Homo sapiens: one gene and its partners. The main gene of each other region encodes a partner of the protein of the gene in region 6 in a complex. Each region holds a gene or a part of one and is shown on either strand. Other genes may lie near its edges. The genes, in order: NUP85, NUP93, NUP98, NUP214, NUP107, RANBP2 and NUP205.

Region 1 (3,290 bases), on a different chromosome or scaffold from region 6:
ATGTCTGGTCTCCGTCACTTGAGTTGTGTTGTTAGTTCTCTGCTCTCAGTGCTTGCTGCCTTCCAGCCTTGGAGGCTGCTGGATCCTTTGGGAAGACACCGGGCACTGTCTCAGCCCTTCCTTCCAGTTGTTGGTGGCTTTCGTGCAGGCTAAGGCTTTGGCTCCCTTAGCCTGGGTCCCCTATAGCCTTTTCACTGGCTTCTCCAATGGTTTCGACATAACCATCAGCTAGAAATCTGGGTAGCAACAGCTGTTTTGGGAAGCTGAGGTGTCCTTTCCCCTGGCCCAGCCCACTCCCTCCCATTTTTTTCCCCAGCTTTATTGAGGTGTGATTAACAAAGTAGTATGTATTTAAGGTGTACAAAATTTTTTTTTTTTTTTTGGAGACAGAGTCTTGCCCTGTCACTCAGGCTGGAGTGCAGTGGCACGATCTCAGCTCACTGCAGCCTCTGCCTCCTGGGCTCAAGCGATCTTCTGCCTCAGCCTTCCGAGTAGCTGGGACCACAGGCACACGCCACCACGCCCAGCTAACTTTTGTATTTTTGGTGGAGATGGGGTTTTGCCATTTTGGCCAGGCTGGTCTTGAACTCCTGAGCTCAAGTGATCCACCCGCCTCGGCCTTTCAGTGTTGGGATTACAGGAATGAGCCACTGCACCCGGCCAAGGTGTACAACATGTTTTTTGTTTTTTTTTTTTTTTGAGATGGAGTCTCACTTTGTCGCCCAGGCCGGAGTACAATGGCGCGATCTCGTCTCACTGCAAGCCCCGCCTCCTAGGTTCACGCCATTCTCCTGCCTCAGCCTCCAGAGTAGCTGGGACTACAGGTGTCCGCCACAACATCCGGCTAATTTTTTGTACTTTTTGTAGAGATGGGGTTTCACCGTGTTAGCGAAGATGGTCTTGATTTCCTGACCTCATGATCCTCCCACCTCGGCCTCCCAAAGTGCTGGGATTACAGGTGTGAGCTACCGCGCCCGGCCAACAACATGTTTTGATAGATGTATACATTGTGAAATTAAGCTAGTGACATCTGTCACCTCACATAGTGACCCTTTTGGTGTGCGTGTGGTGAGAACATTCAAAAGCTACTTTCTAGCTGGGTGTGGTAGCGCATGCCTGTAATCTCAGCTACTGAAGAGGCTGAGGCATGAGAATTGCTTGAACCTGGGAGGCAGAGGTTGCAGTGAGTCGAGATCTCACCAGTGCACTCCCGTCTGGGTGACAGAGCAAGACTCCACCTCAACTACTTTCTGAGCGATTTTTTTTTTTTTGAGATATGGTTGTGCTCTCTCACCCAAGTTGGAGTGCGGTGGCGTGATCTCGGCCGATTGCAGCCTCTGCTTCCCAGGCTCAAGCAATACTCCCACCCCAGCTTCTCGAGTAGCTGGGATTACAGGTGTGTGCCACCATGCCTGGCTAATTTTTGTATTTGTAGAGATGGGGTTTTGCCATGTTGCCCAGGCTGGTCTTAAATTCCTGGACTCAGGTGATCTGCCTGCCTTGGCCTCCCAAAGTACTGGGATCACGGGCATGAGCTATCATCACGCCCGGCCCCATCTCTTTGAGGGACAGGACATGTGGGGTTTCTTGCTCACCCCCACTCTTGTGGGACGCGGCCTGTGCCCTGATTTTCCTTCTTGCCTTGGTGTCTGAATCTGCAGCATCGCCCTGAGCAACTGGTGGTTTGTGGCCCACCTGACAGACCTGCTGGACCACTGCAAGCTCCTCCAGTCACACAACCTCTAGTAAGTGGCCGGGAGGCACCGATCCTCCTCTTCTTACCACCAGGCCCCCGAGGGTGGTGTGAACTGAATGCCTGAAAGGGAGGTTGGGCTAAGGGGGCCCTGAACAGGGCAGGCCAGGAGTCTTGGTCTTTTGTTATGTTTTATTCCAGTTTCGGTTCCAACATGAGAGAGTTCCTCCTGCTGGAGTACGCCTCGGGACTGTTTGCTCATCCCAGGTAGGAAGGACCCCATGGGTGTGGGCTATGCGGGTGCTCTTCAGCATGCGGGTGCCATTGGAGCTTGGACTGTTCTCTCCCAGTTGGCTCCTTGAAGGCTTCGGAAGGGTCAGTGAAAGGGAGCTGTAGGTGCCAGTCCTCGGAGCCATGAGGCAGCACCTCATGTCTGTCCTCCTCGAACCTTTGCAGCCTGTGGCAGCTGGGGGTCGATTACTTTGATTACTGCCCCGAGCTGGGCCGAGTCTCCCTGGAGCTGCACATTGAGCGGATACCTCTGAACACCGAGCAGAAAGCCCTGAAGGTGCTGCGGATCTGTGAGCAGCGGCAGATGACTGAACAAGGTGAGCTGGCCCTGCTCCCAGCCTACTGTCTGTGGGACGCAGGAGTCAGGGGATCCTGAGGTCACACTTTATGCCTACCCCAGCCATCCTCCTCCTCACGAGCCACACTGGAGACGTGGGGCTGTGGACGCCAAGAGGTAAACTAAGAGATGGGATAATTACTTGGGAGGGACAGGAAAGCTAGGGATCCACTGGAACCCAGACAAAATCTACACGCCATCTGGAAAGGCCTGAGCCGCCCCTTTTCTCACACACTTGATTCCACGAGGTCAGGGCTGGGGTTGGCGCTGTTTCCCTGTCCAGGTGGGTTGCTATTGCTAGCTCAGCCTGGCTCAATGGGGAAGCAGTGCTGGAGGTGGCTCCAGAAAAGCAGAGAGAGTGGAATGAGGATGACCAAGTCTGCCCCTTCATTTCTCCCCTCACTGTTGAGTAATGTAAACATGAGTTATTACCCTGCAGAGAGGCAGTTGCATGTTCACGACCATTTCTGAAAGCATATGGTATTCACGATCCACAGGAAGATGTGATTTGAGGCATCTGGAGAGGTAATAGAAGAGCTGACACGTAGGGAGAAACACGTAGGGAGAAAAAAAATAGAAGAGCTGACATGTAGGGAGCAACGTTTTGCTCCCCTTGAAGCCACACACACTCATAGAGCCAGTCTTGCCGTGATGGGCACTTACACTCTTAGCAGATCCCAGACACTGTTAATCAGCCGAGTTTCCAGCTCTGCCGATCCAGCTGCATTTAGAGCCCAAAGAGTGGCTCTGCGGTGGAGTGAGGCTGTGAGGCCACTCCGGTCCCCACAGGGCTCAGGAATGGAGTGATTTGTGGAGTGAAAGCCGTTTACCTTTTCTTTTCCCCTGCAAAGTTCGCAGCATTTGTAAGATCTTAGCCATGAAAGCCGTCCGCAACAATCGCCTGGGTTCTGCCCTCTCTTGGAGCATCCGTGCTAAGGATGCCGCCTTTGCCACGCTCGTGTCAGACAG
Region 2 (3,500 bases), on a different chromosome or scaffold from region 6:
GTAGTCTGAAACACTGGCCACGACACCTCTAAGAATCTCCCCCATCCAACCATCACTAGCTTTGGTCTTGAATGCCTTTGAGAGGGCTGATGAAAGTATACAACAGTATTTAGGCGAGCATAATGCTTAAAATTAAGCTTTATGTGCATGATTAAAATACTGAGATGCCCTTTCATACCCATTTCTTTGGCAAAAATGTTAAGTTTGATAGTACCAAGTACTAGTTCTGATGCGGGGACAAAGGAACTCACACAGTGCTGGTGGCATGGTGAGTTAGTAGAACCACTTTGGAAAGCTGTCTGCTGTTACCTAGTAAAGCTGAACATGCATTTGGGTGGGCATAGGTGGCCTGGCACTGGCAGTGGCACCCTCAGGGTCCCATGGAGCCAGCTCCTGGCTTACCGTTCGGCAATGGAGAGTGCCATGTTCTTCAGCCTCTCCTTGTTGGATTGCGGGGCACTGATCTGGGGGACGACAGGGCTCAGCAGTTTGTTCATCAGCTCCAGTACCTTGTCAGCATTCTGCTCAAGTTTTTAAAATTAAGGAAGCAATCAATAAAGTAATCAATAAAAGGAACAACTATATAATGCCCCCTACCCACCAAAGAGAACTTTCTGGGGTGACATTTTTTACCGCCTCCCAAGTTCAAGCAATTCTCGTGCCTCAGCCTCCTGAGCAGCTGGGATTACAGGCATGCACCACTATGCCTGACTAATTTTTATATTTTTAGTAGAGACGGGGTTTTGCCATGTTGGCCAGGCTAGTCTCGAACTCCTGGCCTCAAGTGATGCGCCTGCCTTGGCCTCCCAAAGTGCTGGGATTACAGGCGTGAGCCCCTGCACTTGGCCTATAGCTGTTTTTTTGTCTACTTTTCTCAGTTGATAAAGGAGAGAATGTAATCTTGTTTAGGTCATAGAATCCTTAGCAGTTATCATATGTTCTTAGTCATCATTTGTTCTTCGGTAGAAACATGTATTCTAGTCCTCTCAAAACGCCCAGCTAAGGTCTTATTTTCTTTCACTCCTTCCTGCACACTGATGTGGTCTTATTTTCTAACACCACTGTTCCCCAGTGTGTCTGTGGTTGCCAGGGTCAGCATAATGTAATTTTCAACAGTGGCTTCACCATCGAAATGTGATGGATGCTAATTCTGCTGCCAAGTGAGACAACAGTTCAATGCCTGCAGGACATCCTTTCAATATGTTGTTTGGTCAGAAAAATCTTATGGGCAGAAATAATGCTGTAAAATGGGAATTCTGTCCTGACTGGACCATTAACTGTCTAAGCACTAGAGCAAATGCCTCTGCAGGGAGGGTGCTACAACAATGACACTGTCCAAGTGGCTGCACATTTAATGCCAAAAGGCCAGCAGACCTGTGAAGTGCAAAAGAAGGAAGTGGGCACACTTTACCTTGGCAAGGTCATACAGCTTTGCTGCCTCTTCAAACAGTCCTTTATTTTCTGCCACAGAAGCAACTTTGTTGATAATAGGCTTTGTGTCACTAGTAAACTTATCTATGACTCCAGGCTGACAAGACAAATTATGGAGGGGGAGGAAGAGAGAGACGGGTGCACAGAGCTATTATTTTAAACACAGAGAAGCAATTAGGATCCAAAAAATACTTCAAGTGGAATTGCTTGCCCTGGGCAACGCATATATTTCATCAGCCAGACTCTGGCTTTCTTAAAGATATAAAGTCCTATTAAAACTATAAAAGAGACCAAGGAAACTACACATGAAAGGGCAGACTTACTAGAAGCACAGAGGAGTCAGCAATAAGACATCTGTGCTTTCTAATTTTCCAAAATGACCCAGAGAGTCAGTGAAATCAATGATTTTAAATTTGCTGATAAGTAGGAACTAGAGAGAAAAATCAGGAGGCTTAGAAAAAATATCTGAAAAATTTTGGATTTGCTTTCTAAGACAGATGGCAAAAGGAACTCAGTGCTGAAAAAACACACAGCAAGTGGTAACAGGACATTTCTTTTTTTTTTTTTTTGAGACAGAGTCTTGCTCTGTCTCCCAGGCTGGAGTGCAGTGGCGCAATCTCGGCTCACTGCAAGCTCTGCCTCCCAGGTTCACACCATTCTCCTGCCTCAGCCTCCCGAGCACCTGGGACTACAGGTACCCACCACCACGCCTGGCTAATTTTTTTGTATTTTTAATAGAGACAGGGTTTCACCGTGTTAGCCAGGATGGTCTCGATCTCCTGACCTCATGATCCACCCGCCTCGGCCTCCCAAAGTGCTGGGATTACAGGCGTGAGCCACCGCGCCCGGCTGGTAACAGGACATTTCTTAAAAAAAAATCACCATCACCACTCAACAGCAACTAAATGGTCAGGAGAGCATGAGAGAGGCCTTAGGCACCCTGGGAGAATGAAGGCAAGTGCATAACATCTCTGCCTGGCCATTCTGCTTCTCCACTAGCGCTGGACTCTCAGGGCTAGACCAGGTCAAGGTGGCTGGACCAGGTTGAGGTGACTTGCCCTGCCACTTGGGAGGTAGCAGAGGATAAGGTCTTATCTATGTTTCTAGCTCTGTCAACTCACATACAGTAGGAGCCTCCTGGCCCCAGTGCAGCCTGTTAAAGAAGAAACTATGCAAAGCACTCAGCACAATGCCTGTTGATTGTCACTGCCCAATAAGCAAGGCCACTGTCATCAGCACTGTCACTTGCCTTTCTTCTGAGGTAGATGGTGTGAGCAGTGTGAGCTCATCTACAGATTGCTGGGTCCAAATCACTCATTTTTACAAACGAGAAAACTCAGCCCCTGAGGGACAAGTGACTTTCCAAGGGCCACAGGGAGATTCAGGGTCATGACTGGTCTCTGACAACAGGATCTCTGACCCTCCTGCCATGACAACCAATGGGCATAGTGAGTCCTGAAATCCCTCAAGCTTCCAGAAGTATTTCCAGGGTCACTGTGGAGTTCAAAGCCCTTGGAAACTGCATTTTGAAGGAGGTCAAGTGCATGTCTAACTTTCCCATCTTGGGAGAATGGGTGCAGTAATCAATTTCTTTTCCTTGCATGTTTTCTGAGCCAAGAATGGCAGAAATGTATAATAGCATTCTCAGCTCAAAAAATGACAGGCATGAACAAATGAATATTCTGAACATAATAAAAAAGCTATGTAATCACAAATTAACATATTTTAAGGAGATATAAGTGTGTGTAAAACCAAGGTCATCATTTGGGCCCATAATTTTCATTCCATTTTTTAAATTAAGCAACTCTGTTCAGATTTGCATCTTTAGTACCTTGAATCTTAAAATCTAAGTGTATTTTTTGATATTTATAAATCCCCAATGGCTAACGAACATTTCTCTAAGGATGCATTTAACTCACCTTTCTACTTCCGTCATTCTCTAGTTTCCCAAGAATCATATCGAACTGTGGAAGGAAAAAAGTTTACTCAAATTATTGGACAAAGATATAAACATATTCCATAAGTCTTCAGAGAAAAAAGAGGGGAATCAAATGGGATGAATGGGATAA
Region 3 (3,500 bases), on a different chromosome or scaffold from region 6:
TGTATCATATGTATGTTCTTCAAACCTATTTGACCATGAAGCTTTTCACACACACACACACACACACACACACACACACTCACACACCCCTTCTCCTAGGAATCATGTTTGGTAGAAAAGTAGTTTGGAAAATTCTTCATTCTGATATATTTTCTCTTTATATGATGATTTAGTTGCTGATTATTTCAGGTTATTTTTTTTTCTGTTTTTTTTTTTTTTTTTGTCACAGGTATTATTCTCACTAAGGTTGGTTACTATACTATTCCATCTATGGATGACCTTGCTAAAATTACCAATGAAAAAGGAGAGTGCATTGTCTCTGATTTCACTATTGGTCGGAAAGGTAAGTGTGAGTTTAGCACTTAGTGATTAAGCCAGAGAGTTGCACCTTATTTTTGTAATTAGGGGAAGCTTTTGATAGCTGAATCTTCATTTTCCTACATTTGGGCCCACCTTGGCCTGAATCTTAAATACTTTGATTGATAAGTAACAAAACAAGAAAGACTGGAACCATGTAAATTTTTTTATTTTTATTTATTTTATTTTTTCTGTTGAGATGGGGTCTTGCTACATTGCCTGGCAGATCTCAACTCCTGGGGTCAAGCATTTCTCCTGCCTCAGCCTCCTGAGAAGCACAGAACCATATAATATTCTTTGGGCTTAGGTATACCTGTTTGGTGCTAGTAACTATTTGGGTCATTTTAATTTTCTGTAATTAAAGAAAATACTGGAAATACCAAGAACTTCTGAGAAAATTGAATAATAGGCAAGAGATGTATAACACTTAGCATGAACTTCATGTTATTATTACTGATAATTTTCTTGTGGGAAATGCCACTGTGCTATATTGTATTAAAAAGAGCTCAGGCATTTTAACCCATATGCCAGGCCAAGTGCGAAGGTTTGTTTATATAGCGTCATTATAGATAAATGGGAAGAGATTTAAGAAGGTTGTTTTGAGGCTAATGGGAGTTTTATAAAAATGCAGATGTTAGGCCTGTCGCAGTGACTCACACCTGTAATTCTAGCGCTTTGGGAGGCTGAGGTGAGAGGATCACTTGAGCTCAGGAGTTCTAGACCAGCCTGGGCAACATAGTGAGACCTCACCTTTACCAAAAGTAAAGAAAATGAGCCAGGCCTGATGATATGTGCTTGTAGTCTCAGCTACTTGGGAGGGTGAGGTGGGAGGATTGTTTCAGTTTAGGAGGTTCAGGCTGCAGTGAGACAGGACCACTGCACTTCAGTCTGGTCAACAGAACAAGACCTTGCCAAAAAAAAAAAGAAAAGAAAAGAAAAGAAAAATGCAGATTTTAAATCAGATAACAGTGTAATTGAAGTTACTCTCCCTAAGTCCCCATTCTTACCAGTCTAGGAATTGCTGAATTATTTAAAATACTAATACTTAAAACTGCTTTCTCCTTGTGATTGTTTAATCACTATAGTTGTAAAGTAGGTATTTGCCTTCATACAGAATGAATTTTTAACTATTTGCTCTGATTTATAGGTTATGGTTCAATCTATTTTGAAGGAGATGTGAATTTGACAAATCTAAATTTGGATGATATTGTGCATATCCGGAGGAAAGAAGTAGTTGTCTACTTAGATGATAACCAAAAACCACCTGTGGGTGAAGGGCTAAATAGGTAAGAGTTTATGTACATACAGAAAATTATCAGCTAAATCACAATTTTTTTTTCTGTAAACATAAATGTGTTTAGATGTATGCTTCTGTAGCTTGCTTTCCTTACTATAGAGTACATTTATTGTCTCTACTTTGATTTAAAAGTATAAATGGCAAAGAAATGCTATACTGTGATTTTGAACTCCTTTTCCCTGATTTTATTTTTTAATTCATTTTTTTACATTCCTTGGATTCGATTCTATTCTATTTTATTTCATTTCATTTCATTTTACTATTATTATTTTTTTTTTTTGAGATGGAGTTTTGCTCTTGTTGCCCAGGCTGGAGCGCAGTGGAATGATGTCAGTTCACTGCAACCTCCGACTCCCGGGTTCAAGCGATTCTCCTGCCTCAGCCTCCCAAGTAGCTGGGATTGTAGGCGCCCGCCACCATGCCTGGCTAATTTTTGTATTTTTAGTAGAGACAGAGTTTCACCATGTTGGCCAGGCTGGTCTTGAGCTCCTGATTTCAAGTGATCCTCCCACCTCAGCCTCCCAAAGTGCTGGGATTACAGGTGTGAGCCACGCTGCCCAGCCTCCCTGATTTTATTGGGTCCAACTGCTAATTTCAAAAACTCTTTTTAATAGTATTTTGCTTTATTCCTGTTTCTGCTGTGGCTATACTTAACTCTCTATTTTAGTGTGAGATCCTAGCTTCTAATATCTTAGTCAAGTGAAAGGGCTGTAGTGAAAATTATTTATCTTCATAACCTACCAACCCTGAATCAGGAAGAAATAGAAAATCTGAGCAGATCAATCGATCCTTTCCTTTCCTTTCCCCTTCCGCTTCTTTTCTTTTCCCTTTCTCTTCTTTCTTTCTTTTCTTTCTTTCTTCTTTTGAGACAGAGTTTCACTCCTTTGCCCAAGCTGGAGTGCAGTGGTATAGTCTCAGCTTACTGCAACCTCTGCCCCCTGGGTTCAAGCGATTCTCCTGCCTCAGCCTCCAGAGTAGCTGGGATTATAGGTGCCCGCCACCATGCTCAGCTAATTTTTGTATTTTTAGTAGAGACAGGGTTTTGCCATGTTGACCAGGCTGGTCTTGAACTCCTGACCTCAGGTGATCTGCCCACTTCGCCCTCCCAAAGTGCTGGGATTACAAGCATGAGCCACTGTGCCGGGCCAATAATTAGTAAAGAGATTGACTCAGTAATCACAAACTTGTCAAAAAAGAAAAACCTAGAATCAGATGGCCTCATTGGTGAATTCTACTAAGCGTTTAAAGAAATAACACCAGTCCTACTCAGACTCTTCCAAAAAATTGAAGAGAAGGGAATACTTTCACACTCATTCTATGAGGCAAGCGTTACCTTATTCAGTAACCAAAGACACTGCAAGGAAAGAAAACTACAGACCACTTGATGAGTATATTGATGAAAAAGTCATCAACAGAGCCCTAGGAAGCAGAATTTAACAGCGTATTGAAAGGATTACACATCATGGCCAAAAGATTTATTCTGGAATGCATGGATGGCTTAACATACAAAAGTCAGTGAAACATACCACTTTAACAAGATAAAGGAATATACCACATCATCATCATCATCATAATACAGAAAAAGTATTTACCAAAATCCAACACTCTTTCATAATAAAGGCACTCAAATACAGAAGGCTTTTCCTGTGAGACAAGGCAACACAAGGATGCCTGCTTTTGCCACTTTTCCCAAATATACTACTGCAAGTCCTGGTCAGAGCAATTAGGCAAGAAAAATAAAAGTTAATACAGTTTTGAAAAGTAGTAAAATTATCTCTGTTCTTTGATGACATCTTGTGTAGAAATCCCTAAAGATGCCACACAAAAAAACTTACTAGTTATAAAC
Region 4 (3,500 bases), on a different chromosome or scaffold from region 6:
GATTCTTTTACACTAGCATGAGCAATGTCATCAAAAGATAACTTATTATCTTTTATGTTAACTTACAAAGATAACATACTTTTTGCCTTCAGGAAACAAAAATGTTTAGCTATTTCTTATAAAAGGTGAAAGCTGCAAGGAAACATTTATCTTTTCGTCTGCTTATTTAGGAATTAATTATTCAGGGGAAATATCAAAACTAAGTTTATCACAATATGAAATACCAAGTTTATCATGATATGAAATACTATTGTTTCCAGCTGAGTTTTAAACAGGAGGTGGGACACAATTATGCTTAGGAGAGTTAGTACTTTCTCTTACCAAGGAAATTACTGAGAACTCGTTTTGAGAGTGAGCACCTTCTCTGGGGAGTGAAAAAGGAAGAGGAATGCAGGGAACTGTCTTTGGGATACTTATGGCCTAAAGGAAATGTAAAGTCGGTTCCACCTAAAGAGCAAAAGTCTGTAGACAATCTAAACTCCAGCATTAGATGACTGGTCAGATAAACTGTGGTGCAGTCAACAAAATGGAACACTATGCAACCCTTAGCATGAAGTGGATGTGTGCCAATTCAGTATTAACAGTAACTGTGGTGGCAGCAGCACCACCATAGCAACAACAGATAGTACAGGCAAGTAGGGAAAAAGCTGGTAGTACTTATACTCGATGGTTATCTTGGGAACTCATGGTTATCTTGGGAGGGGTTACAAGATATAAGGGATTGCTTCCCTCCAAAAGCTTACATTCTAGTGGGAAGAAAAGAACAAGATAAAGAAGTAAATAAATAAGAAATGAGTGAGCTGCCCGACCCAGATCTGGAGGAAACTGGATACCAACCTAAGAATTAGCAGTGAGCAGCCACGGGGCTTCATAGGGACTGTCAAGCAGAAGAATCACCTAACAATTTACAGTGTCACAAGATGACTTTGTGGCTGTGTAGACAGCAGTTCAGAGAGAGTTAAGGGTAGACACAGGGAGGAAAAAAGACTACAAGGGATTCATTTCCCTTCCAGGATGCATACTCTGGATTGCTTCTTTTTTTAAAATAAGGAATATTTCCTACATTTGTAACGTAAAAAAGCAAAACAAATACCTGAATATAAATCCCATAGTCAAAAAAATAAAATGCTAGCTAAGAGACCCTTCTGGACTCTATTCACTGATGAAATGCCAGTATTTTATGTTGGTTGAATTTTTGCCATTTGCAAGTATCACTCTGGGTAAAAAAATTCTACTCAGTTAACTCCTCTCAGAGTGACTCTACTTTTAGTAAATAACATCCAATATTTCTACCCAACTCACAGAAGAATCAAACTTTAGAAGTGACTTACTTTTCACTAAGGTTGACTTTGACAGCAGAGGTTGAGGGTGGGAAGGAGGGCTTCATTGCTATATTTGGAGCAGACACACTTGGCACTGGTGTGCTTTCCAGGGTAGGCTTAAAACCAGATGATCCAAAGGAGAATGAAGCAGCTGATGGAGCCACAGGAGACGCTGCAGGGGTGGGGGCTAGGGAGGCTTTAGAAGGGGGAACAAAAGAGAAGGTTGATGGGCCAGGGCCTGGGGCTGCTTTGGAGCTGTCGGAGCCACTGGAATATGAAGGGGGCTCCCCAGTGACCGTAGCAGATGACTTCAAAGATGAAGAACCAAAGGAGAACACAGTGGGGGCTCCACCAGCAGGAAGCAAAGAAAAAGTGGCAATGGGAGCAGCAGGTGATGAAGGTGGCAGAGAGGCAGGGGCTGCAGCTGCAGAAGCATCCAGTTTCTGTGGGGCTTGAGAGGAGGTTGGGGTAGTGGGAGTACTTCCTGCAGTGACAAAAAAAGGAAGGAAAATGTTAACACTGTAACAGTGGAGGTTCACATAATAGAAAGCAAGTGAAAAAGAATTTGTGGTAGAATAAAGCCAGAAATGTTACTAGTTTAAGAAGCAAAAAGAACACATGGGTACACAGTTCATGTTGGAGTTTTCAGGTCTCATGAGATAAATGAAACTGAAGGAAAACTAAGGAAAGACATTAGAATAATTGGACTTCATGGACTTCTCAGTGCTACTATGGCACACAAAACAGTTCAGTCACTGCAACATTTCATTAACAACCAGGAAAAAGTTTTAATTCAGACCTCCACCTTATTTCACTAAAAGTAATTCCAGATAAATACACATAGAAAGTCACATAAATACAGGTATCTCAAAACAAAGGAGGCAAATTGATAGATATGTTAGGTCTCAGAATCTAACACCTTGATAAATTTAGAAGTGACCAAAAAAAAAACAATCGCAAAGGGAGAAGGTTAAGATTTGTGTAAAAAATAGCTACTCAGGTACAATAACTAAATGGTAATGAACTAAAAAAAAAGATCCATAGCAAATGACAAATAAGATGTTTTCTATTTTTTAAAAAGCTCATACAAATTGAGATTTTAAAATTTCAGGACTAATAAACAGGGAAACTAACTCACATAAAGAAAACACATTCAATCTCTCTAATCAAAGAAATATAAACAAGGTACATTTTTAATTTGTCCTCTAAATTATAAGAATTTAAATATGTCTAACCCCTTATGTTTGGATGGGTAAAACAAACCTGAAACTTTTTATCACTGGTAGGTAACTAGTATTTTTTTTAAGAAAACATTTTGGCATTGTATAAAAAACTGTAAAAAACAGACCCAGTAATTTCTCTTCTAAGAATAAAGCTTACAAACATAATGCAAAAAATGAAAAAGATATTTAATGCAATCCAAATGGTTAAAAAGAAAAAAAAAAGTCAATGGAAGGCTGGGCGCAGTGGCTCATGCCTGTAATCCCAGAGCTTTGGGAGGGCAAAGCAGGAGGACCCTTTGAGTCCAGGAGTTTGAGACCAGCCTGGGGAACAAAGTGAGACCCTGTTGCTACAAAAAAAATACAAAAATCAGCCAGGTGTGATGGCTTGTGCCTGTAGTCCCAGCTACTTGGGAGGCTGAGGTGGGAGGATCGCTTGGACTTGGGAGACAGAGGCTGCAGTGAGCCAAGATCCTGCCACTACACTCCAGCCTGCACAACAGAGTGAGACCCCTGTCTCAAAAATGAATAATTTTTTTTTCTATTTTCCAAACTTTCCATAAGGTAAAAATATTAATCTTTAAATTAAATAACCAACTAAATAAGAAAAGAATTCTTTGTGTCAATATTTTCTATTTATATTAATAGGACTTGGTTGTTCCAAATTAGCTAAGATGGCAGTTTATCTTCATGGAAGACACTTTGTCTAATGCAACGTAATACTTAGATACAAGTATGAAAATACCACTTTCTGAAAACAAAAATCCAAGTAAACTGTCACATTGATGAAAGTATAATAATGCAAGCAAACCTATTCTGTTAATACTTCTTTATACAATAGATATGGAACCAGCTACAACTAACTTCTGTAAAGACATACATAGATGTTAAAACACTTTCATGCATATTAGGTAAACTGACATGAAAAATATATACCAGACCCTAAATAAATCAAAAG
Region 5 (3,500 bases), on a different chromosome or scaffold from region 6:
TTATGAAAACTAAAAATACTGAAGTTTGACTAACGACGGAGTGAAATTAGCTTACCTGACTACCACAGATGTTTTCATACTCTTCCACAAGATCAAAAACTGTACTCGAAGAGTGCTTCAGAAAAGACTGCAGGAAATCAGAAAACATACTCATGGATGCTAGAACACATCAAAAAAAAAAAAAGGAATAAAGAAAAGTTAAGTGACGTACTTCTAGGTAATTCCGTTTGTTTGAAAATGTATTTATTTGTTTATTTATTTTTTGAGATGGAGTTTCACTCTTGTTGTCCAGGGTGGAGTGCAATGGCACGGTCTCAGCTCACTGCAACCTCCACCTCCCAGGTTCAAGTGATCCTCCTGCCTCACCCTCCCAACTAGCTGGGATTACAGGCATGTACCACCATGCCCAGCTAATTTTTGTATTTTTAGTAGAGATGGGGTTTCACCATATTGGCCAGGCTGGTCTCAAACTCCTGACCTCAGGTGATCTGCTCGCCTCAGCCTCCCAAAGTGCTGGCATTACAGGCGTGAGCCACCGCACCCAGCCTGTTTGAAAATTTAAATGGCTACAAGTCTTTTATAAATTCACTGCTATATTAAAAAAAAAAAAATTGAGACAGAGTCTCACTCTGTCACCCAGGCTGGAGTGCAGTGGCGCAATCTCAGCTCACTGCAACCTCCACCTCCCAGGTTCAAGCGGTGCTCCTGCCTCAGCCTCTCAAGTAGCTGGGACTACAGGTGCGTGCCACCATGCCCAGCCAACTTGTTGTATTTTTAGTAGAGACGAGGTTTCACTGTGTTAGCCAGGATGGTCTTGATTTCCTGACCTCATGATCCGCCCACCTTGGCCTCCCAAAGTGTTGGGATTATAAGCGTGAGCCACCGCACCCAGCCTCAAAATTTTTTTTAATTGGCAAGATACACATAATATAAAATTTATCTTAATCATTTTTCTTTTTTTTTTTTTTAAGAGAGGGGGATCTTGCTCTGTCACCTAGGCTGGAGTACAGTGGTGCAATCATGGCTCACTATAGCCTCAAACTCCTAGGTTCAAGTGATCCTCCCACCTCAGCCTCCCCAGTAGCTGGGACTATAGGTATATACCAGCCACCATGCCCAGCTAATTTTTTATTAGTCTGTAGAGACAGGGTCTTGCTAACTCCTGTCTCAGCATCCCAAAGTGGTAGGATTAAAGGCATGAGCCACTATCCCTGGCTTAATCATTTTTAAGTGTATAGTTCAGTGTCAGTAAGTACATTCACATTGTTGTGCTACCATCACCACTATGTATCCACAGAACTATTTCATCTTGTAATACTGAAACTCTGTACTTAATAAACATTAACTCCCCACTCTCCACTTACCCCAGCCCCTGACAACTATCCATCTACTTTCTGTCCCTACATGTGTTGACTATTCTAAATATCTCATGTAAGTGGAACCATAGAGTATTGCCCTTTTGTGACTGGTTTATTTCACTTAGCATAATGTTCTCAAGGTTCATCCATGTTGTAGCATGTGTCAGAATGTCCTTCATATTTGGCTGAATAATATTCCACTGTATGTATAGATCACATTTTGTTTCCCCCATTCATCTATCAACAGGTACTTGGCTTGCTTCTACCTTTTGGCTACTATGAATCATGCTATGAACATGCATGTACAAATATTTCTTTGAGACTCTGCTTTCCAATCTTTTGGATATATACCCAGAGGCAGGTTTGCTGGATCATATGGTAATTCTATTTTTAATTTTTTGAGGAACTGCCATACTGTTTTCCATAGCAGCTGTACTATTTTACATTCCAACCAATAGTGCACAAGGATTTGAATTTCTCCACATTGTTGTCAATACTTGTTATTTTCTGGGTTTTTGTTCTTGTTGTTGGTTTGTTTGTTTTTCAGTAGCCACACTAACGGGTGTAAGGCAGTATCTTGTAACTCACTGTAGTTCTGATTTGGATTTTCCTAATGATTAGTGACATTTGAGTATATTTTCATGTGCTTACTGGTCATTTGTGAATCTTCTTTAGAACAGTGTCTATTCTATTTCTTTCTTTCTCTCTTTCTTTTTTGAGATGAAGTTTCGCTCTTGTTGCCCAGGATGGAGGTGCAATGGCATGATCTCAGCTCACCGCAACCTCTGCCTCCCGGGCTCAAGCGAGTCTCCTGCCTCAGTCTCCCGAGTAGCTGCGATTACAGGCATTCGCCACCATGCCCAGCTAATTTTGTATTTTTAGTAGGGAGAGGGTTTCTCCACATTGGTCAGGCTGGTCTCGAACTCCCAACCTCAGGTGATCCACCCGCGTCAGCCTCCCAAATTGCTGGGATTACAGGCATCAGCCACTGCGTCCAGCCTCTGTCTATTCTATTTCTTTGCTCATTTTTAAATTGGGTTGTTTTTTTGTTGTTGAGTTGTAGCAGTTTTTATACATTTTGGATATTAACCCCTAAGCAGATATATGATTTGCAAATATTTTCTCTCATTCTGTGGGTTGCCTTTTCACTTTGCTGATTGTATTCTTTCGTGCACAAAAGTTTAAAATTTTGATGTAGCCCAATTTATCTATTTTTTCTTTTGATACCTAAAGGTCTTTTAAGATCTCAAAGATATACTAGTTATTTTATAAACAATTACTTAAGAAATTGAGCCAGATTTAAAAATATCTGAATTATATTTTAAGCACACCATTACAAAGTAGTGGAGAAAGTTATAATACATACTAAATGGCATGTTCCACTCTGGGAAAATACAGGCACTTGGCCTAAGTAGAAAGTATTTTGAGTCACTTAATACGAGTACCTGTTTTTGACAGATACTACAAGAAAGTAGTAGTTACCAAAGTGTTAAGAGCAGGGCTCTGGAGCTAAACTGCTTAGTTTCAAATCCTGGTACCACTACTTCCTAGCCAGGTGGTTTGAGGTAAGTTACTTAACCACTTTGAGCAGTAGTTTCCTTTTCTCTAAAATGGGAATAATTATTGTAACTATTTAATGGACCACCATAAGGATTACATGAGTTAATGCTTGTACAGTGGTCATAACACTATCTGAAAAAAAATAACAGCATTACGGTCCAGGAGAAAACAAAACACATCAACAATGTTAGATTAAGAACTAAACCTAAAGAAAGAGATGCTCTTTCAACAGCACAAATAAGAAAAAAATTACAATATGAGACTTGTCTAATAACGTAACAGGCTGCTATTTACATTAAAAGATAAAATGGCAAGATGCTGCTCAGACTGAGAACCAAGGTGAGGTTCTCAACCTTCTAGTGATACTGTATCAAATACCATTGCCATAACCACAACTAATTAGCTTAAGGAAAAATATATTATAGACAGAAGACCAGATGAAGACACAGGAGGAAGACAGCCATCTGTAAGCCAAGAGAAGAGGCTTCAGAGAAAACCAACCCTGCCAAGACCTTTAACTCAGACATCTAGGCTCCAGAATTGTGAGAAAATAAATTTATGTTGTTGCCTATAATCCCAGCA
Region 6 (3,500 bases):
AAGCACTTGCATTAACTTAAGAATTTATTCTAAAATCATGACGAAGGCATCAACTGTCTCAGCTGAAAAGTTACAACACACTTTACATCAGTTTATATTACATAGATTTCCAAATAAGCCAATTTGAAATATTTAGTGTAAACATATGTAATCCATGGTTCAAGACTGAACTGATACATTTGGAGTAGGTTTATTTCAAGTATCTGGCTTTGTGGCCGAGTGGAATGGTGATGGTATACCATCACTCATTACTCGCACAACATCCCTCCCCTCTTTTGACTGGTGGTTGAACAGTTACTTGCTTTAGGATACCCAATTTCCAAATCCCCATGTAACAGGGAATAAACCTGTCTTTCCTCACTAAATAAAATGAGGTAATTTCACCCGAAAGAACACAGATGGGTGGAAGACAGTCAATATTCATAATTGCAATATACAAAATTTTGTGTTCTACCTGGATTCTTTGTAGTTCCATATTGAGTAGGCCAATAAGAACATCCTCTTTTCTTTAGCAATTTGCCTAACATTTGATACAAGCCATTTCCAAATACGTTTTTGGTGTGTATCAAACTTGAGAAACTAGGAGCTCTGGAAATTATGCAGCAGTTTGAATTTACTGCCTTTAAATTGTCTTCCTTACTTTAGAATGAACCCGAAGCGTAAGTAATGAATTTTTTGGATGTCAGTGGCTCTTAGGAATTGTCATTTTATTTCTGCTACAAAATTTACCAGAAAAAGGTACTGCAACAATCTTGTATAAAGCAAATCTTTAACGAAAGAACATGGTATAGACTTTCTAAAAATATTCATACTTTATCACAATAACTACAAGGAAAAATTCAATTTCTATCATCAGAACCAAGCTGCAGTTTCTGAGGTAGTAGAGACAGATGACAGAAAAGTTTGAAACAAAACCCCTAAAGGAAATAGTCAACTTGTTTAAAATGTAAAAATTAATCGAATATCTATGAAAGGGCACAGGAAGCTAGATATTTTAAGGAAGGAAGGTACGCTACTTACAAAGTTAACTTGTAACCACACAGGAGGTGTAAAGATTCTAGAGAAGAGCACTTTGGTTAACTCTATACGTTCTGTGGCTCTACCCATTCATAAACGAGTCTCTATGCATAAATGAGTACACCAATAGTTAAGATTACCAAATATATTTCAAACCTAAAATTAAATTATCCAAGTTGTGGTCCCTTTATTCAAATGGTAAGTATATCCATGCAGGAAGTCCAAATATCTTAAAAGGAATTAAAATTAAATTGCATATATCATATTCCTTCAATAGTTTGAGGTCTATTGCTTTTAACAAGATTAGTATTATTCCATTTTAATACGTCAGGAGTACATAAACACAAGTACACCTGAAATACACCAGTGTTTAAACTTTTATTTCACACCATGCAAGGTCAATTATAACACATTAAAAAGTGACAACAGCTATAAGCTGCAATTTTACATTTGTAAATCGGAAACGTCCATTTTCAAAAGCTGAACATAACTATCAAATTGTAATAGCTAAGCTTCAATCCAACTGCTTATACAGATGAAATTTTCTATGAACAACAATGATTTTATATCTGTCCACATTCTGTGATAGTTATTCTTCGACAAACAGACCCTTTGGGAGAACCAAATGATTCAATCTTTTTCACAGTATCCATGCCATCCTTAACAAACCCAAATACTACATGCTTAAAGTCCAAATGTTCTGCTTTCTTCAGTGTTATAACAAATTGAGAATTATTGGTATTCTGGCCTTGATTGGCCATGGATAGTAAACCAGGACCAGTATGTTTCACATCAAAATTTTCATCTTCAAATTTGTCTCCATAAATGGACTGTCCGCCTGTTCCATCATGTTTGGTGATATCTCCTCCCTGAAAAAAAGATTTATAATAAAAAAGTTAAAAATTTTTTTCAATTAATAGGAATCCTGAGTAAAATATTAAAATACACACAGAACTCATCACTACATGTTAAATCCTAAAGCCCAGCTTTCCTGAGTATAGTTTGAAAACTAAGAAATTCATATTGTTGGAAAGAAGATGAAAAATGAAAAGGTTTTTCCCATCCCTTAGTTTCTACTAGATCTCAAGTACTGAAAATTTGATTTTTTTTTTTTTTTTTTTTTTTTTTTTTAATGACAGGCTGTCTCACTCTGTCGCCCAGGATGGAGTGCAGTGGTGCAAACCTAGCTCACTGCAGCCTTGGCCTCCTGGATGCTCCCACCTCAGCTTCCTTGTAGCTGGGATCACAGACGCACACCACCACACCTGGCTAATTTTTGTATTTTTTTGTCCAGACGAGATTTTTGCCATGTTACCCAGGCTGGTCTCAAATTCCGGGGCTCAAGCAATCTGCCTGCCTTGGCCTCCTAAAGTGCTGGAATTACAGGTATGAGTCATTGTGCCCAGCCTCAATTATTTTAGGTTGAAAGTTTTAGGCAGGAGCAGGGAATGGGTAGTGATGCCATGTGATTCCATGTGTGGAAAACCTAAAGAAATCTTTAACAAAACTACAGGATGAGGTCAAGGAAAAACACTCAAATTTCCCATTAGTGTGGTGCACTCTTCAAGACCTCAATTGTGGTATGTACTTAATAATACCTACTTGGCAAACAAAATCTGGAATTACTCTGTGAAAAATGGAATTCTTGAAACCAAAGCCTTTCTCTCCAGTGCATAGTGCTCTGAAGTTCTCAGCAGTCCGAGGAACAATGTTTGAAAATAATTCCATAGTTATCCGCCCTAGAGGTTCACCGTCCGCACAAACATCAAAAAACACCACAGGATTGGTCTCCTTTGATAATTCTGCTGCCAGTGATACATGTCCTTTCTGGAGTTTCATTAAATTCTGCTGACATTCTTCAAATGTTTTCTTGAAACAATCAGCTACTTCTTTAGTTTTAAATCTCACTGCAAGCTGTTCTACTTTTGCTTCTCCATCTGGCAGGGAGGGAAAGGGGAAGCAGTGACCTTAGTATTAAAATAACTGTTATAAGTTGTTTTGTTTGTTATAGATTTTAGAAAAGTCCAAAAAATGAAAAGTAGCATTTGAATGTAAAAACTCACCAGCATAATCTGAGGCAGTCCAAACTAAAGCATTATTTGAAACATTTAAGGGCTTTAATTCCATTGTTTTAGTAATAACGTGGTTTGCACACACTTTAAAAACCTGGTCTCTTCTCATTAGGATCCGGTAATAATTCTTCATTGTATGCCAAAGAATCTTTATATCTCCAACACCGCGCTCCTTCCACTGACTGACATCCCGATCCCATCTATAAAGTTTGGCTCTCTCTTTAAACAAAATTTCTTCATCTTCTTCTCCAGATTTTACTTCTACCTATAATAGGAGATGAAATTCTCTATAAGCTGCTGCTTATAATAAATTCCATGACAAATTTCAAAGATCCAAATTCTTTTAAGGCATTTTCTTTGTGATGACAAAGAGAATTTGTTAATGTGATAACTGGTTATATATCTTAGGGC
Region 7 (3,500 bases), on a different chromosome or scaffold from region 6:
TGAACACTGCTGAACTGTACACTTAAAATTTGTTGAGATTGCATTCTATGTTATGTGCTTCCTTTAAATTACAGTTTTAAAAAATCAAACATCTTGGAGTTGTAAGGAAAAAATACAGAGATTGTAGAGTTCTAAGACCTATGGTTGGCCAGGTGTGGTGGCTTATGCCTGTAATCCCAGCACTTTGGGAGGCTGAAGTGGGCAGATCACCTGAAGTCAGGAGTTCGAGACCAGCCTGGCCAACATGGTGAAACCCTGTCTCTACAAAAATACAAAAATTAGCCTGGCATGATGGCAGGTGTCTGTAATCCCAGCTACTCGGGAGGCTGAGGCAGGAGAATTGCTTGAACCCAGGAGGAGGAGGTTGCAGTGAGCCGAGATCATACCACTGCACTCCAGCCTAGGCAACAGAGCGAGACTCTGTCTTAAAAACAAACAAACAAAAAACAAACAAAAAAACCTATGCTTGTATTTCAGCTGTATAACTTAACTAGTCTTGTGACCTGTATCAACCTGGCTGAGTACACTCACAGACTTGTGAATAAGCAACTATTAACACTGCTTGGCAGTCCTTCTGTGATAGTCTGGTCACCTCGTCCATTCACAGCAGTGACTACTTCAGACCTTTCTACACTCTTCAAATCTTTAACCTGCAACTAACTAAACCCTCAGACTTCTAGTCACAGAGAAAATAGGAGCCAACATACATGAACTCCCTTTATTCACTCTCAAACCTACAAACCTAGGTGTGTCTGCATTCTTTTGAATCACTTTTCCTCTGTCTTCCTATCTAATGTAAATCCCACCCATTGTGTTCTTCACCTGTTACCCCTTTTTTTGTCTTGTATATTCACTTCTCTCTCTTGCTCTTCCCTTTCTCTCCACTGATGATCTCATGCGTCACTCCACTTACTGTCCTCTTCCTAGTCAAGCCTTTCAAAAGATTTGTTAGTATTCATGGACTCCATCTCCTTCCTTCCTTTGTTCCTTCCTTCCTTCCCTCCTTCCTTCCTTCCTTCCTTCCCTCCCTCCCTCACTCTGCCCAGGCTGGAGTGCAGTGGTGCAGTCTCGGCTCACTGCAGTCTCCACCTCCCAAGTTTAAATGATTCTCCTGCCTCAGCCTAGTAGCTGGGATTACAGGCCTGAACTGCTATGCCCAGCCTACTGACTCCCTTTTCATACCTCCTATTCCTTCACCCATTCTGGTCTCTTCCATCCTTGTAAACAGCTCTCAATAGGGTTAACTTCTGTTTCTTGTAGTTCAGAAAGTTCCTTTTTAAAAAATTATTTTTTATTTTGAGACAGGGGCTCATTCTGTCGCCCAGACTGGAGTGCGGTGGTGTGATCTCAGCTCACTACAACCTCTGCCTCCCAGGTTCAAGAGATTCTCCTGCCTTAGCCTCCCTAAGTAGCTGGGATTACAGGCGCCCACCACCACACCTGGCTAATTTTTGTAATTTTAGTAGAGATGGGGTTTCACCACGTTGGCCAGGGGTGCCTCGAATTTCTGACCTCAAACGATTCACCTGCCTCGGCCTCCCAAAGTGCTGGGGTTATAGGCATGAGCAGAAAGTCCCCATGTTTTAAATCTTCATTTGGCTTGATCTTTTAGAGTAAAGACCAAAATCCTTTTTTTTTTTTTTTTTTTTTGAGACAGAGTCTGGCTCTGTTGCCAGGCTGGAGTGCAGTGGCGCGATCTTGGCTCACTGAAACCTCTGCCTCCCAAGTTCAAGCGATTCTCTTGCCTCAGCCTCCTGAGTAGCTGGGACTACAGGCGTGCGCCACCACACCCAGCTAATTTTTGTATTTTTAGTAGAGCAGGGTTTCACCGTGTTGGCCAGGATGGTCTTGATCTCCTGACCTCGTATCTGCCCGCCTCGGTATCCCAAAGTGCTGGGATTACAGGCCTGAGCCACCACACTCGGTCATCAAAATTCTTTAACGTGGGCAAGTGAGCCCTGTGTGATGATCTTGCCAAACCCGTTTTCTGTACTGCAGCTCTCTTGGCCTTTTGAGTTCTTTGACATGCCGCATTCCCTCTTGCCATGGAAACCCACAGGTTGTCCTCTCCCTGGAATGCATGTCTTCACCTCCCACCTGTCAGTTAACTATCACTTTTGTTCTTCAGATTTCAGCCTAGTTATCACTTCCTCATGGATAATTCTTTCCTCTGGCTAGGTCAGAGTCCCCTATTATGTGATCTCTTGCCCTGGCTACCTCTCCTTCATATCCTTCATATCCTGACCACAGTTGGATTTTATTTTATTTTTATTTATTTTTTTATTTTTTGAGATGGAGTCTTACTCTGTAGCCCAGGCTGGAGTGCAGTGGCGTGATCTCGGCTCACTGCAGCCTCCGCCTCCTGGGTTCAAGCGATTCTCCTGCCTCAGCCTCCCTAGCAGCTGGGACTACAGGCGCATGCCATCACGCCTGGCTAATTTTTTGTATTTTTGGTAGAGACGGGGTTTCGCTGTGTTGGCCAGGACGGTCTTGATCTCCTGACCTCGTGATGTGGCCCGCCTTGGCCTCTCAAAGTGGTGGGATTACAGGCGTGAGCCACTGTGCCCGGCCAGATTTTACATTTATGTATGATTATGATTAATGTTTTTCCTCACTGCAGTATAATCTTACCAATACCTCACACATGGTGAATGAGTGAGTAAATGTGATTTGCTGGAGGTATCCCTAAACATTAAGGAAAATAAATGTATTTCTCAACTGACTAAACTACATGGTAAAAATACATATTTAGTAATTTTGAAAAATTTATAGTGTCCCTTCATTTGTAATCAGTAAAAAAGATATTTACTGTAATCCTAGCACTTTAGGAGGCTGAGGAGGGAGGATCACTTGAGGCCAGGAGTTCAAGGCAAGCCTGGGCAACATAGCAACATCCCAGTTCTACAAAAAATACAAAAATTAGCCAGGTCTGGTGGTGCGCGTGCGCCTGTAATCCTAGCTACTAGAGAAGCTGAGGCAGGAGGTTGCTTGAGCCCAGGAGTTTGAGGCTGTAATGAGCTGTGATTGCCTCACTGCACTCCAGCCTGGGTGACAGCAAGACCCTGTCACAAAAAACAAACAAAAAAAAGGTGTTTACTGAAATTGGTCAAACTCAAGACAGATTGAAGATAACTCTTTGTTGCGGCTACCTTTGGTGTTTTTTTTTTCTTTTTCTTCTTTGAGACGAGGTTTCACTCTGTTGCCCACGCTGGAGTGCAGTGGCTCAGTCATGGCATACTACAGCCTCTACCCTCTGAGACTCAGGTGATCCTCCCACTTCAGCCTCATGAGTAGCTGAGACTATAGGCACAAGCCACCATGCCCAGCTATTTTTTTTTTTTTTTTTTTGAGACGGAGTCTTGCCCTGTCACCCAGGCTGGAGTGCAATGGCATGATCTCAGGTGACTGCAACCTCTGCCTCCTGGGTTCAAGCAATTCTCCTGCCCCGGCCTCCCAAGTAACTGGGATTACAGGTGTTAGCCACCATGCCCAGCTAATTT

What was found.
Region 1: RANBP2 (region 6) and NUP85 share a complex: the UniProt entries of both Homo sapiens proteins name them as parts of the nuclear pore complex.
Region 2: RANBP2 (region 6) and NUP93 share a complex: the UniProt entries of both Homo sapiens proteins name them as parts of the nuclear pore complex.
Region 3: RANBP2 (region 6) and NUP98 share a complex: the UniProt entries of both Homo sapiens proteins name them as parts of the nuclear pore complex.
Region 4: RANBP2 (region 6) and NUP214 share a complex: the UniProt entries of both Homo sapiens proteins name them as parts of the nuclear pore complex.
Region 5: RANBP2 (region 6) and NUP107 share a complex: the UniProt entries of both Homo sapiens proteins name them as parts of the nuclear pore complex.
Region 7: RANBP2 (region 6) and NUP205 share a complex: the UniProt entries of both Homo sapiens proteins name them as parts of the nuclear pore complex.

What each region holds. Positions count from the first base shown.
Region 1 is NC_000017.11:75,229,679-75,232,968, forward strand, and holds part of NUP85 (nuclear pore complex protein Nup85), read left to right. Parts: intron 1-1,661; coding exon 1,662-1,745; intron 1,746-1,894; coding exon 1,895-1,960; intron 1,961-2,149; coding exon 2,150-2,301; intron 2,302-3,172; coding exon 3,173-3,290. UniProt on the Homo sapiens protein: Essential component of the nuclear pore complex (NPC) that seems to be required for NPC assembly and maintenance. As part of the NPC Nup107-160 subcomplex plays a role in RNA export and in tethering NUP96/Nup98 and NUP153 to the nucleus.
Region 2 is NC_000016.10:56,834,629-56,838,128, reverse strand, and holds part of NUP93 (nuclear pore complex protein Nup93), read right to left. Parts: intron 3,396-3,500; coding exon 3,351-3,395; intron 1,529-3,350; coding exon 1,412-1,528; intron 522-1,411; coding exon 403-521; intron 1-402. UniProt on the Homo sapiens protein: Plays a role in the nuclear pore complex (NPC) assembly and/or maintenance. May anchor nucleoporins, but not NUP153 and TPR, to the NPC. During renal development, regulates podocyte migration and proliferation through SMAD4 signaling.
Region 3 is NC_000011.10:3,717,555-3,721,054, reverse strand, and holds part of NUP98 (nuclear pore complex protein Nup98-Nup96 isoform 1 precursor), read left to right. Parts: intron 1-229; coding exon 230-343; intron 344-1,504; coding exon 1,505-1,643; intron 1,644-3,500. UniProt on the Homo sapiens protein: Plays a role in the nuclear pore complex (NPC) assembly and/or maintenance. NUP98 and NUP96 are involved in the bidirectional transport across the NPC. May anchor NUP153 and TPR to the NPC.
Region 4 is NC_000009.12:131,142,586-131,146,085, reverse strand, and holds part of NUP214 (nuclear pore complex protein Nup214), read right to left. Parts: intron 1,807-3,500; coding exon 1,332-1,806; intron 1-1,331. UniProt on the Homo sapiens protein: Part of the nuclear pore complex. Has a critical role in nucleocytoplasmic transport.
Region 5 is NC_000012.12:68,693,478-68,696,977, reverse strand, and holds part of NUP107 (nuclear pore complex protein Nup107), read right to left. Parts: intron 160-3,500; coding exon 56-159; intron 1-55. UniProt on the Homo sapiens protein: Plays a role in the nuclear pore complex (NPC) assembly and/or maintenance. Required for the assembly of peripheral proteins into the NPC. May anchor NUP62 to the NPC. Involved in nephrogenesis.
Region 6 is NC_000002.12:108,781,982-108,785,481, reverse strand, and holds part of RANBP2 (E3 SUMO-protein ligase RanBP2), read right to left. Parts: intron 3,355-3,500; coding exon 3,081-3,354; intron 2,955-3,080; coding exon 2,620-2,954; intron 1,887-2,619; coding exon 1,581-1,886; 3' UTR 1-1,580. UniProt on the Homo sapiens protein: E3 SUMO-protein ligase which facilitates SUMO1 and SUMO2 conjugation by UBE2I. Involved in transport factor (Ran-GTP, karyopherin)-mediated protein import via the F-G repeat-containing domain which acts as a docking site for substrates.
Region 7 is NC_000007.14:135,560,917-135,564,416, forward strand, and holds part of NUP205 (nuclear pore complex protein Nup205), read left to right. Parts: intron 1-3,500. UniProt on the Homo sapiens protein: Plays a role in the nuclear pore complex (NPC) assembly and/or maintenance. May anchor NUP62 and other nucleoporins, but not NUP153 and TPR, to the NPC.